Regions from separate parts of the Homo sapiens genome. Here region 2 is linked to region 1. The links come from fine-mapping of genetic effects on gene expression. A gene starts in region 1. The other region holds a variant in brackets. All regions are shown on one strand. Distances are from middle to middle.

What was found. PIP is the estimated chance that this variant, and not a neighbour inherited with it, causes the effect. A credible set is the group of variants that fine-mapping cannot tell apart.
Region 2: its variant is the best candidate, but not a certain one, in a credible set for the expression of GPR161 in cerebral cortex (GTEx, PIP 0.85).

The regions. Positions count from the first base shown.
Region 1 is chr1:168,134,409-168,139,790 of GRCh38, reverse strand. It overlaps GPR161 (G protein-coupled receptor 161), which reads left to right and starts at 2,861. Exons shown (of 6, transcript NM_001375883.1): 1 at 2,861-3,052. RefSeq lists silencers at 2,166-2,460, 2,989-3,218.
Region 2 is chr1:168,165,878-168,171,259 of GRCh38, reverse strand. No RefSeq gene overlaps it. Among named protein-coding and RNA genes, the nearest start is that of TIPRL, 10 kb to the left of the region's middle. The variant GAAT/T (reference allele first, on the strand shown) is at 2,560.

The sequences.
Region 1 (5,382 bases):
GTAGGACTATTTCATGTACTGCAAGATGTCTGGTATCCTGGGCCGCACCCAATAAATGCCTGGGGTGTCCTCTAATCATTGTGACAAACCCAAAATGCCTTTCAAAATGTCGTATTAAGAATCACTGAGTGAGATGCTTTCTGTTCCAAGTAACAGAAATAAACCCATACTGATTCAATAAAAATATATGTATATTGATTGGCTCTTGTTTCTGATCAGTCCAGAGGCACATCAGTTTCAGGGAAGTTTCCATCTGAGGTCAAATGGTTTTACCATTCTATCAGTGGAGGCATACTGTAAACAAATAAATAGAAAAATTGATGCATATTTTATAAATTTGGACACATTTTATGTAGAAAAACAACAGAGCTGTGAAAGAGTACATAGATTAGAGAATTTCTTTTAGATTGGTCAGGGGCTGAGTGCAGTGGCTCACATCTGTAATTCCAGCACTTTGGGAGGCCAAGGTGAGAGGATAGCTTGAGCCCAGGAGTTAAAGACAAGCCTGGGCAACATAGCAAGATCCCATCAGGGAAGACTTCTCTAAGGAAGTGACATTTAAGGTGAGATGTGAAGGGCAGGAAGGGCTTGGCCTGTAAAGAGTGGAGGAAATAACATTCCATGTGGAACAAATAGCATATTTCACAGTTTTGCTTTCACCAGTTTTATGTGGACTGCTAGACTGAAATGATATTTTACATAAAATATGTTTTATATATAAATTATTCAACACACATGTGAGGTTCAGTTGGACAAGGCCTCTCATTATCTTACTTTATAAGTCTTTGTGGATGTCTCTAAAACAGAATGGTTTATTAAACTAATTTGGGAAAGGAGAATTAGTGTGTATCTTTCTCTTTTTCTAAAAAAATATAAATACATTCTTGCACAAAATCAGTCACGTTTTTCACAATTGTCACCTATACAATGATATACGGTGAAATAATTACTTTAATAATAATTTGTCTGTTTTCTCTGCATCTGATTGAATTCTGCTCATAGCTCAATATTAGCTCCAGAAGGGAAAAAAATCTTAAGAGAGCAATTGAAAATGCATTTGTTGGCAGCAATTTCCATCCCTGAATGCACAGTAAGTTCTGAGCTTATGAGCTCAGAAAAAAGAAAAATCTTTGTGATAAATAATGCATTTGATAATGAGCAGCAGGAGAAAAAAAGTGTTTTCTGTTGAAGAGTTCAAAATGAAATAGAGTAAGTATGGGAAAAGGTTGCTCAGTATGAAGGACATCTTTCGCATCATGGATGGGTATGGAGCCACAACAGCCGTAACTGTTTATTTTTTATTCTCATTCTCACCATGCCAGTCTGTGGCATATATTTTCAGACCTTTCGTGAATACCAATTTTCAAAAGGGTTTAGTTCTCAGATTCTATGTCACTGGATGATTTACTTACATGACCTCATTTAACCTTTTCAACTCTACAGATAGGAAAGTATGAGTATCCCCATTTTATATATGAATAAGCTGAGAGGAAGGTTAACTCACTCCCTCAGGCTCATAGAGCTTAGCCGACATCTGAGTCAGTGTAAATTAAATAAATATCAGGGATTTCAAAATAAGTGTCTAAAATACTATTAAGAACAGAAAGCTTTAAGCTCCTTCAAGTGTCTGGCTTGCCGCGTGACCTAGACTCTTAAGTGGAGCGTCAGCTTCCAGTTTTTGACCAAATAAAGCATTTATCCCATAGGAATATTAAGGCACCCATTTACTTTTTTCTCCCCATTATCCCATTTGTCCCCAGAGCAATGTGGGTGTTTGGCAGGTGCCAGACAGTAAATTACTGTTCTAAATTGTGCCTCAGTGGCCCAATAATATTAAGGAAGCATCTCCCACAGTGTCAATCTGTAGACAAGGGAATAATTAATGTATTTATCAAAGCAGATGGATTTCAGAGGAATGTGAATCCTGCTCTAAGCACAGCATCAGGGTTTGTTTTTTTTTTTCTGGAGTTTAGTGAACTGGGCTTTGTAACTTCTTACCTGATTATTTTGCTGCCCTGTTTGTCCTTCCTTCTTTCCCTTTTTAGCAGTTCTACTCTGTGCTTCAACTTTTCATCCCCTTATTAAGACTGCTGCATAGAAAACGTAGGAGTCTGGAGACAGGCAGGCAAAGTGGGGAGTGAGGAAGGGAAAACAAACATTCTGAGAAGGAACTGTTCCGTCCCCCGAGCTGACAGCGCCCGCTCTTTGTTTTGTGATGACTGCTCCCTGGCCTTTTGGTTCCGAGGGAGTGCAGGGCAGCAGTGTGAAGACCTGTTTACGTCCACTCCCCACTCCCCGGGGCTGGCTTCGGGACGAATTCACTGTGGTATTAACAGAGCCCGGGACAGAGCCTGGCAGAAGGCAGATGGATGCTCGTGCCCGTCGGCTGGATGAATGAAAGGTGAGCAGCAAAGGCGATACCAGGATCGTCCACGGCGGGACTGGAGGAGGAGAATGGGACTGTGCGGAGCCTGCGGGAAGAATCTGAAAGTGTCTGTGTGATGGAGAGAGACATGGAAAAGGCGACGTCCCAGCGGCTGGAACTGGGGCGGAGGAACGGGAACAGGGAAGGCCTGAGTTAGGCACCACAAAGGTTTTCAGGAGAAAAGTGGGGCGAGCCGAGAGGGTAAGGGCGAGACAAAGAGCAGCAGCCGAGGCTGTTCGTGGGAAGAAATGGGAAAGAAGCAGCCGGGAGGGCGGGCGGACGGACGCGAAGGAAGGGGCGCGGGTGGGGAGGGGCGCCGGGAGCTGGGCGGGGCGGGGCAGTGCGGGGCGCGGGGAGGCGGCTCGGGGCTCCGGGGGCCGGAGGGGCCCGGCCGGGCGTGGGGGGGGCGGGGCGGGGCGCGGGCGCCGCAAAGTTACTTGGCCTGCGCCCGCCCGGGTCCGCGTGCTGGTGGCTGGCCCGCGGGAGGAGCGAAGCGGGGCTCGGTGGGCTGAAACCCGAAACCTCCAGTCCCGGAGCGCGGCGGGGAGGAAGGAAGCGGCGGCGGCGGTGGCCGAGGCGGGGAGGCGGCTGGGCCGGGGCCTGAGCTGCCGCGGCGGCCGCTCCTCGGTGAGCACCCGGCGTGGGGCGCGGGCGCGGGCCCGGGCGGAGAGGGCGGTCCGGATGGAGCCAGGCTAAACTCATTGTGCGAGGCTGAGGGCTCAGGGCGCGGGCCGGGAAGGGTCCCCGCCCCCACGGCGCTCCCTTTCTCCCCGCGCCCCTCTCGGAGGTCAGGGCTGTCCTCCGCCCGCACTGCGCCTTGCTTTGGAGAGCTGGAGCTCTTTGTGGGAAGATGTTGGGGGCGCGCCCCTCCCCTGCGGCCTGGGGCTTCTGAGAGGCCCACCCCATTCTGCTGGGTGCAGCCCGCCCCGTTTCTCCGGCGCCGCCCGAAGCCCCTAAACAGTCCGCTGGATGGGAGGGCGTAGGTGCGTGCCCGGGACTCTGCCGATGCGGGCCGCGCCCCCTGGGGCCAAGAGACTCCACGTCCCGCTCAGGGCAAAGGGTGTGGGGAGAAGCGGTCACGCCCCTCGGCTGGAATCCGTGAGGACCAGGTGAGCAGCCTTCTCCCAGCCGGGACTCAGGGCGCTGTCTCCCCGAGCCTGGGCGGGCGGCGGGTGGCGCGCCCAGAAGTGGCCCGGCGCCGCCGGATGGGCGGCTCTGCCCCTCAGATCTGCGGGAGGGAGATTCGGCTGGTTCTTGGAAAGGGGAGAACTCGACCAGCCCTCGGCGCCTTCTGGGCCAAGCTTAACCCCCGTGCAACCTTTGGACAAAGGCATATGGGATGAGAACGTCTGTTGGGTAAGTGGGGTGTGTCCTGTGCTTCCCGGAGGTCTGCTCACCAGTAACCACATAGCTGCGCATTGGCATCGCTTTATATCACATCTTGGAGGCTATTTTTGCTTGTTATTGTACTTTCATCCCTTTTGCAAAGTGCTTTCATAGAGCAGGTCATTTGATCCACCTCCCGGTGAAGCCGTGAGGAGGTGTGTGGTTTTGGAGGGAAAGAACCTCAGTTCCTTGATTGTCCAATGGAGACACCGATAACCTCCGGTGAGCCTGTCTCAGCGTCCTAGGGGCTGGGGGAGGATGGCCATCCTTGTGGCTCCTCCGTGGAGCCAGGCGTGGATTCAGCCTGGCTTCTTCTCCCCTAGTGACCTGGACCTCCAGATGAGTTCTGGAGAGCTACTGCTTCGGGGAATAGGCGGTTTTCCCTTATAATCTATTTTACTGCAGCCACTGGGAGCAAGTGAAGAGAGGCATTTTTCAGGCCCTCAGGGCAGAAAGAGGAGGTGGGAGGGACCTCAGGTCATAGAGACAGAGGCTCTTCAACTGTAACTGGAATGCATGGCACCCATTTCTGTTACTTCTTTCAGAGCACCTCTCTTCCGGTCCTCCTCCACACCCGTCTTATTTTATACTTGTCAGGTGCTTACAAGCACTTTCATGTACACTTTTTCATTCACACAACAACCTTGTGAAGCTCTACTAGCCCATTTGATAGGTGAGGAAACTGAGGCTCAGGAGAGATGAAGCATTCTTGCCCAGCTAGGTAAGCAGCCCAGATTGAACTCAGATCTTTTGCCTTGGTAGTGCTTTTCACGTGGTTTCCTGATGGCACACAGGTGAGTTCTTTAACTCAGGGCTTCTCCCTGCCCTGTAGCTCCACTGCCATAACATCAAGAATAGAGACCCCTCATTAAGAGGCCCGCTTGACATTTTGGAACTAATCCAAGGCCGCAACGATATCCGAACCGTTCTCTTTGTGTTGCAGCCTGGTGCACTGTGCGTCCTCTGAGAGGTGAAGGAGCACTGTGTGGTCAGAGGGCTGCGAGCTCTCTGTTTGGGTTCCGAGGAAGACAGAATGGGCTGAACTGGAACTGACCTAAATGTCAGCAAGAGGAGGTACAGTTCTGTGGTGTAAACTCCACTGCCAGCAGGGACCAGTCAGGAAGCCTGAGTGCAGGAGGCGGGTGGACAGGAGGGCTGGGTGGGAGCTGTGTGCTGCTAAGCCTGTCTCCAGTAAGGGGGCAGCTGCAGGTGCGGTGGGGCTCCAGCACATGGTTGCCTGATCTTAGTTTTGGGGGAAACTGTAAATTTTTACGGAAAACAAGCTTCATATATTTTTAAAGATAGCAACTGATTCAAAACATTTTTTTTAATGTGCGTGCAGTTTAACCAAATTATGTGTGCAGGCTGCTTGCGTCTTCTGTGTGAGACCTTGGGAAGCACTGACTGTCATTCTGAGATGCAGTAAAGCATGACAGCAGGGGAGAAATGGTGTCTTCTTGCTGTTTTTCTATAAGAACAAAAAACATCAACAGAACTAGAGATAGCTATCAGTGCTACCTGGAGTTTGGAGGAGGGATTGACTTTATGACTCCATACTTCATTCATTCACC
Region 2 (5,382 bases), 31 kb before region 1:
CCTCAGGATCCCTCAGTTTAGTGATGATGAAACTCCTAAACACAAAAACACATTCCCTAAGGGTGTAGTACCTTAGTTGAGTTACTTTTGGTTGAAAGTAAGAGAAACTCTCTGCAAACTAGCTTTAGCAAAGCAGCCTATTCTTAAAAGAAGAGAATGATTTCAGGATTTGGAGTTACCTCTTGCTATGTGAGGAGAAAGCGAATAATCAGGCCTCAAGAGCAAAGGACTGAGGAACTGAAAAACCTGGGGTGCTGGTCAGCTGAACACAGTCTCTCTAACTCTCTCACGGCTCCTCATCTCTCTCTTTTGTTCTCTTCTTCAGTTTAGCTCTCTGCTTCCTTCTCTCTTTTTGCAGACCAGCTCTGTCAGCTTCTCTTTGTGTGTGCTTCCTGCACCCATCCAAAACACAGTTTCCTAATAGACATCTTGATAGCCATTTCTTGGTTCGCCTTTCACATTCTCAAAAGAGAGAATCTGATTGGCTCAGCTTGAGTCAGGTGTCTATCATGGCCCAATCAACCATGACTAGATTTGGTCATGCTGGTATAAGCCCATGGGGTTTTGGGGACAGTGGTTCTCAGAGGCATATGCTCCCACATCCTCAATGTCTATAACTGGCCTTTGTGCTAATTAGGGGAGAAATAAGAGGAGTTTTAATGTGGGACTGCTAGTACAGGCAAGCCCAGTGGATGGGGATAGGGCTGGCAGACAAAGGTAATAGAGTGGAATATGAAAAGAGGAAGGAGTGGCTGAGTGTGGTGGCTCACACCTGTAATCCTAGAACTTTGGGAGGCCAAGGCAGGTGGATCACCTGAGGTCAGGGGTTCGAGACCAGCCTAGCCAACATGGCAAAACCCCTATCTCTACTAAAAATACAAAAATTAGCCGGGTGTGGTGGCACATGCCTGTAATCCCAGCTACTTGGGAGGCTGAGTCAGGAGAATCGCTTGAACCCAGGAGGTGGAGGTTGCAGTGAGCCGAGATTGCACCACTGCACTCCAGCCTGGGCGACAGAGTGAGACTCCATCTCAAAAAAAGAAAAAAGAAAAGAGGAAGGAGAAATGGAAAAAGTTATAAAATTCAACCTGTATTTATTTTACAGTTTTTGTAGTCAAAAGCAGACCTAATGTCCACCCAGCACCCTGGCAAGGTTTGAGGACCCACAAAAGCATGGGTAAAGAGGTAAAGCAAATATTAGGGTATTTCTGGGTAAGGTGAAACTGTAGTCAAAAGTCAAAGATAAAATTACTATATGTAGGCTTACCAAATATGCAAAATAGGAATATCTACTTATAAGTCAGGCTTCTAGGTCTTTCATATCTGCAGTCATAATCCGATATACACTAATTTTGGATTATGAGAAATTAGGAGAATTAACACTTCTACTTTATCTTCTAAACCATTTCTTTGAATTGACAAGGAAAGTGAATTTTCAGCTGTCTGGAGAGCGGATCAGCACCCACCATGTGGCCATTGTCATAGTGGTCCCCAGCTTATGCTGTAATTAGTTCTCTCAGAGCACTCAGCTGGGTTATAGTGGATCATCTTGGAAATCAATAGAATTGTTTCTATTGATTTTTGTCTTTGATGTTATTTTTTGGCAAAGTTTTCATTACATAAACATTTTAATGCTCTGTCATATATATATGTATATATATGTATATATATATACATATATATATATATATATATATATAATACATGTACACATTGTCAGGATAGATTTAAGTGTATGGCATGCAAAGTGGCAAAAAGAGCTGATGGGGCCAGTCGCAGTGGCTCATGCCTGTAATCCCAGCACTTTGGGAGGCCAATGTGGGCAGATCACCTGAGGTCAGGAGTTCAAGACCAGCCTGGCCAACATGGCAAAACCCCGTTTCAACTAAAAATACAAAAAAAAAAAAAAAATTAGCCGGGTGTGGTGGTGCATGCCTATAGTCCCAGCTACTTCGGAGGCTGAGGCACAAATATCGCTTGAACCCTGGAGGCAGAGGTTGCAGGGAGCCGGGATTGCGCCACTGCACTCCAGCCTGGGCAACAGAGCGAGACTCTGTCTCATACAAAAATTAAAAAAAAAACCCAGCTAATGGAACATGAGTAAATAGGTTTATTTGAGAATCATTTATAAAGGGAAACAGCTGCACTATATCATGTTACCATAATTAGTGTTAACTATTGAAGTAACTGTGTCCACTTTATAGAAAACTGGTGTTGTTGGTGGCAGGTGCCTGTAGTCCCAGCTACTGGGGAGACTGAGGCAGGAGAATGGCGTGAACCCAGGAGGCGGAGAGCTTGTAGTGTGAGCTGAGATCGCGCCACTGCGCTCCAGCCTGGGCGACAGAGCAAGACTCTGTCTCAAACAAACAAAAAAAGAAAACTGGTGTTGTTTTAGTGTAAATGGGCATTCATTCGGGTACTCAGGAAAATATAAACATATAAAAGAGCTTGATTCAAATGTTACTTTTAAGGTTGTGAGAAAATCACTAGATAATTTCTTGTAAGACATTAGACCAGGGGTGTCCAATCTTTTGACTTCCCTGGGCCACATTAGAAGAA[GAAT/T]TGTCTTGGGCCACACATAAAATACACTAATGATAGCTGATGAGCAAAAAAAAAAAAAAAAATCTGTGCATAAGTCTCATAATGTAATGTTTTAAGAAAGTTTATGAATTTGTGTTGGGCTGCATTCAGAGCCATCCTGGCTCATCCACATGTGGCCTGAGTGCCATGGGTTGGACAAGCTTGCATTAGACATTTAAAAATGTCTTTCATAGCAATAAACTTTAGTACAGGATAGATTTTTGTATGTGTGTACTTTAATTGAGGTTACCAAAATGCCAAGCTATAAAACTTTAGGAGATGAGCAAAATATCACTACGGGAATTATTTCATCCTAATTTCTGAAGATAGAAATGAAGCAGGTGAACCAGAAATTTCTAAGATAGCTACCAGGGAAACAAAGAATAAAACAAAACCAAGCAGAACTATAATAGGAATTCATGCTCTTTCTGTCCAGCAATGTTGTATGGTCAAAATATTTTTCTTTCTTTTCCCTGCTTATTTTGGGAAGGAGAAAAAGGGTAAAAGAAACTGAAGCAGTTTACATGCAAGGAATTTGAATGGGCAAACACAGTCTTTCTGAAATCATAAGCTTAAGTTCAACCCCTGGTGATAGGAACGAGCTGGTAGAGGGAGGATAAAGGAAGATGAGGGCTGAGATCTAAGTGGATTCCCAAGTGGTGTCAGGCCTCTCTCCTGGTGAGCAAAAGCAGGAGGCTGTTATTGCCGAAGTTAGCTGTGGGCCTGGAAGCAGAGGCCTATCACTGCAGTGTGAGTTCCATGACTGATAGGGAAAGGAATGGAAGGGAAAGAAGGGGAAGGAAAGGTCCCAAGGAAAAGGTCCCAATGGGGTATTGCTATCATGGGATGAGATCAATCAGAGCAAGCTGAGCAGAGAAGAAAAAATTAGGCTTTGGCAAGTGGATTCTTCACTTGAAATGGGAAAAGTTGGCTGTGGCTCACTCCTGTAATCCCAGCAATTTGGGAGGTGGAGGCGGACCGATCACTTGAGGTTAGGAGTTTGAGACCAGCCTGGCCAACATGGTAAAACCCCATCTCTACTAAAAATACAAAAGTTAGCTAGGCACGGTGGTGTGCGCCTGTAATCCCAGCTACTTGGGAGGCCAAGACAGGAGAAAATCCAAGCTACTTGGGAGGCTGAGACAGGAGAATCACTTGAACCTGGCAGGCAGAGGTTGCAGTGAGCTGAGATTGCATCATTGCACTCCAGCCTGGGTGACAGAGTGAGACTCCGTCTCAAAAAAGAAAAAAAAAAAAAAGAAATGGGAAAAGTCTAAACAGGTGTGATGGTTAATACTGAGTATCAACTTGATTGGATTGAAGGATGCAAAGTATTGCCCTGGGTGTGTCTGTGAGGGTGTTGCTAAGGGAGATTAACATTTGAGTCAGTGGGCTGGGAAAGGCAAACCCACCCTTAATCTGGGTGGGCAGAATATAAAGCGGGCAGAAAAACGTGGAAAGACTACACCGGCCTAGCCTCCCAGCCTACATCTTTCTCCCATGCTGGATGCTTCCTGCCCTCAAACATCAGATTCCAAGTTCCTCAGTTTTGGGACTCAGACTGGCTCTCCTTGCTTCTCAGCTTGCAGATGGCCTATTGTGGGACCTTGTGATCATGTGAGTTAATACCTAATAAACTCCTATATATATATCTATATATATATATATATATCTCTCTAGAGATATATATAGATATATATATATCCCAGCATATATATTCATATATATCTATATATCCCAGCATATATATATATCCCACACACACACATATATGTGTGTGTGTGTGTGTGTGTGTGTGTGTATATATCCTATTAGTTCTGTCCCTCTAGAGAACCATGACTAATACAATAGGGGAGGGATTTAAGTGGCTAAGCACCAGGGATATGGAGTTAGGCTGCCTAGGTTCAAATCTTGGCTCTCCATTTGCTCATTGTGATGTGACCTCTGCCAAGCCTCACTTTTTTCATTTTTCTCATTATTATTTCTAGTAATAGCATACCTCATAGTATTGTTAGGAAGATTAAATGAGATATACACAAGTCCCTAACATAGTGCCTCTCAAAGGTGCTCACTCAATACACTATCCATTAGTATTATAGAGTAGCAGCAGTGGCCTTGTGCATTCACAGTGACGCTGTTTCTCAAAGTGTGGTGCTGGAGCTGCACGTACGTTAGAATCATCTGGAATGTTTGACAAAAATCAGATTCCTGTTGCTCCACCCAGAACTGCTGATTCAGAGTCTGTAAGCATGGGATCTAATTCAAGTGGTGGTCTTTGTTTTTAACAAGGTCCTCAGACTAATCTTATATACACTCAACTTGGAGACTCTGTGGACGAAGGCAATCACAGTAGCTACTTACAAGCCGGTACATTCACCAGAGAGAGAGAGCAGAATACACTTGGGTGAAATAGGATGTCCCTACAAGTTGGTAGGCACAGTGCTTTTCTTCTGTTAGCTGTGTGTGTGTGTGCATGCACACATAAACACACATGCACTCTGAGGAGAGAAGAGCTGGAAACTGGTAATAGTCATAATGATAATGATAACTATGATTTATTGGATACCTATTCTGTGCCAGACACCACAATAAGTGTTTTACAATTTGAGTTTAATTCTTAATATGAATAAAATTTAACTCATTCTTTTACATAAAAACATGTTATGATTTCAGATTCAGCTAACCGTATGCAGGTGAGACACCTGGATGTTACCACCATGAGAACATGACCCAGGAATCCTGCCAGTCTAGTAGCAGTTTACCCTAATTATAGCAAAGTGGGTTCAAATAATTAAAATAGCT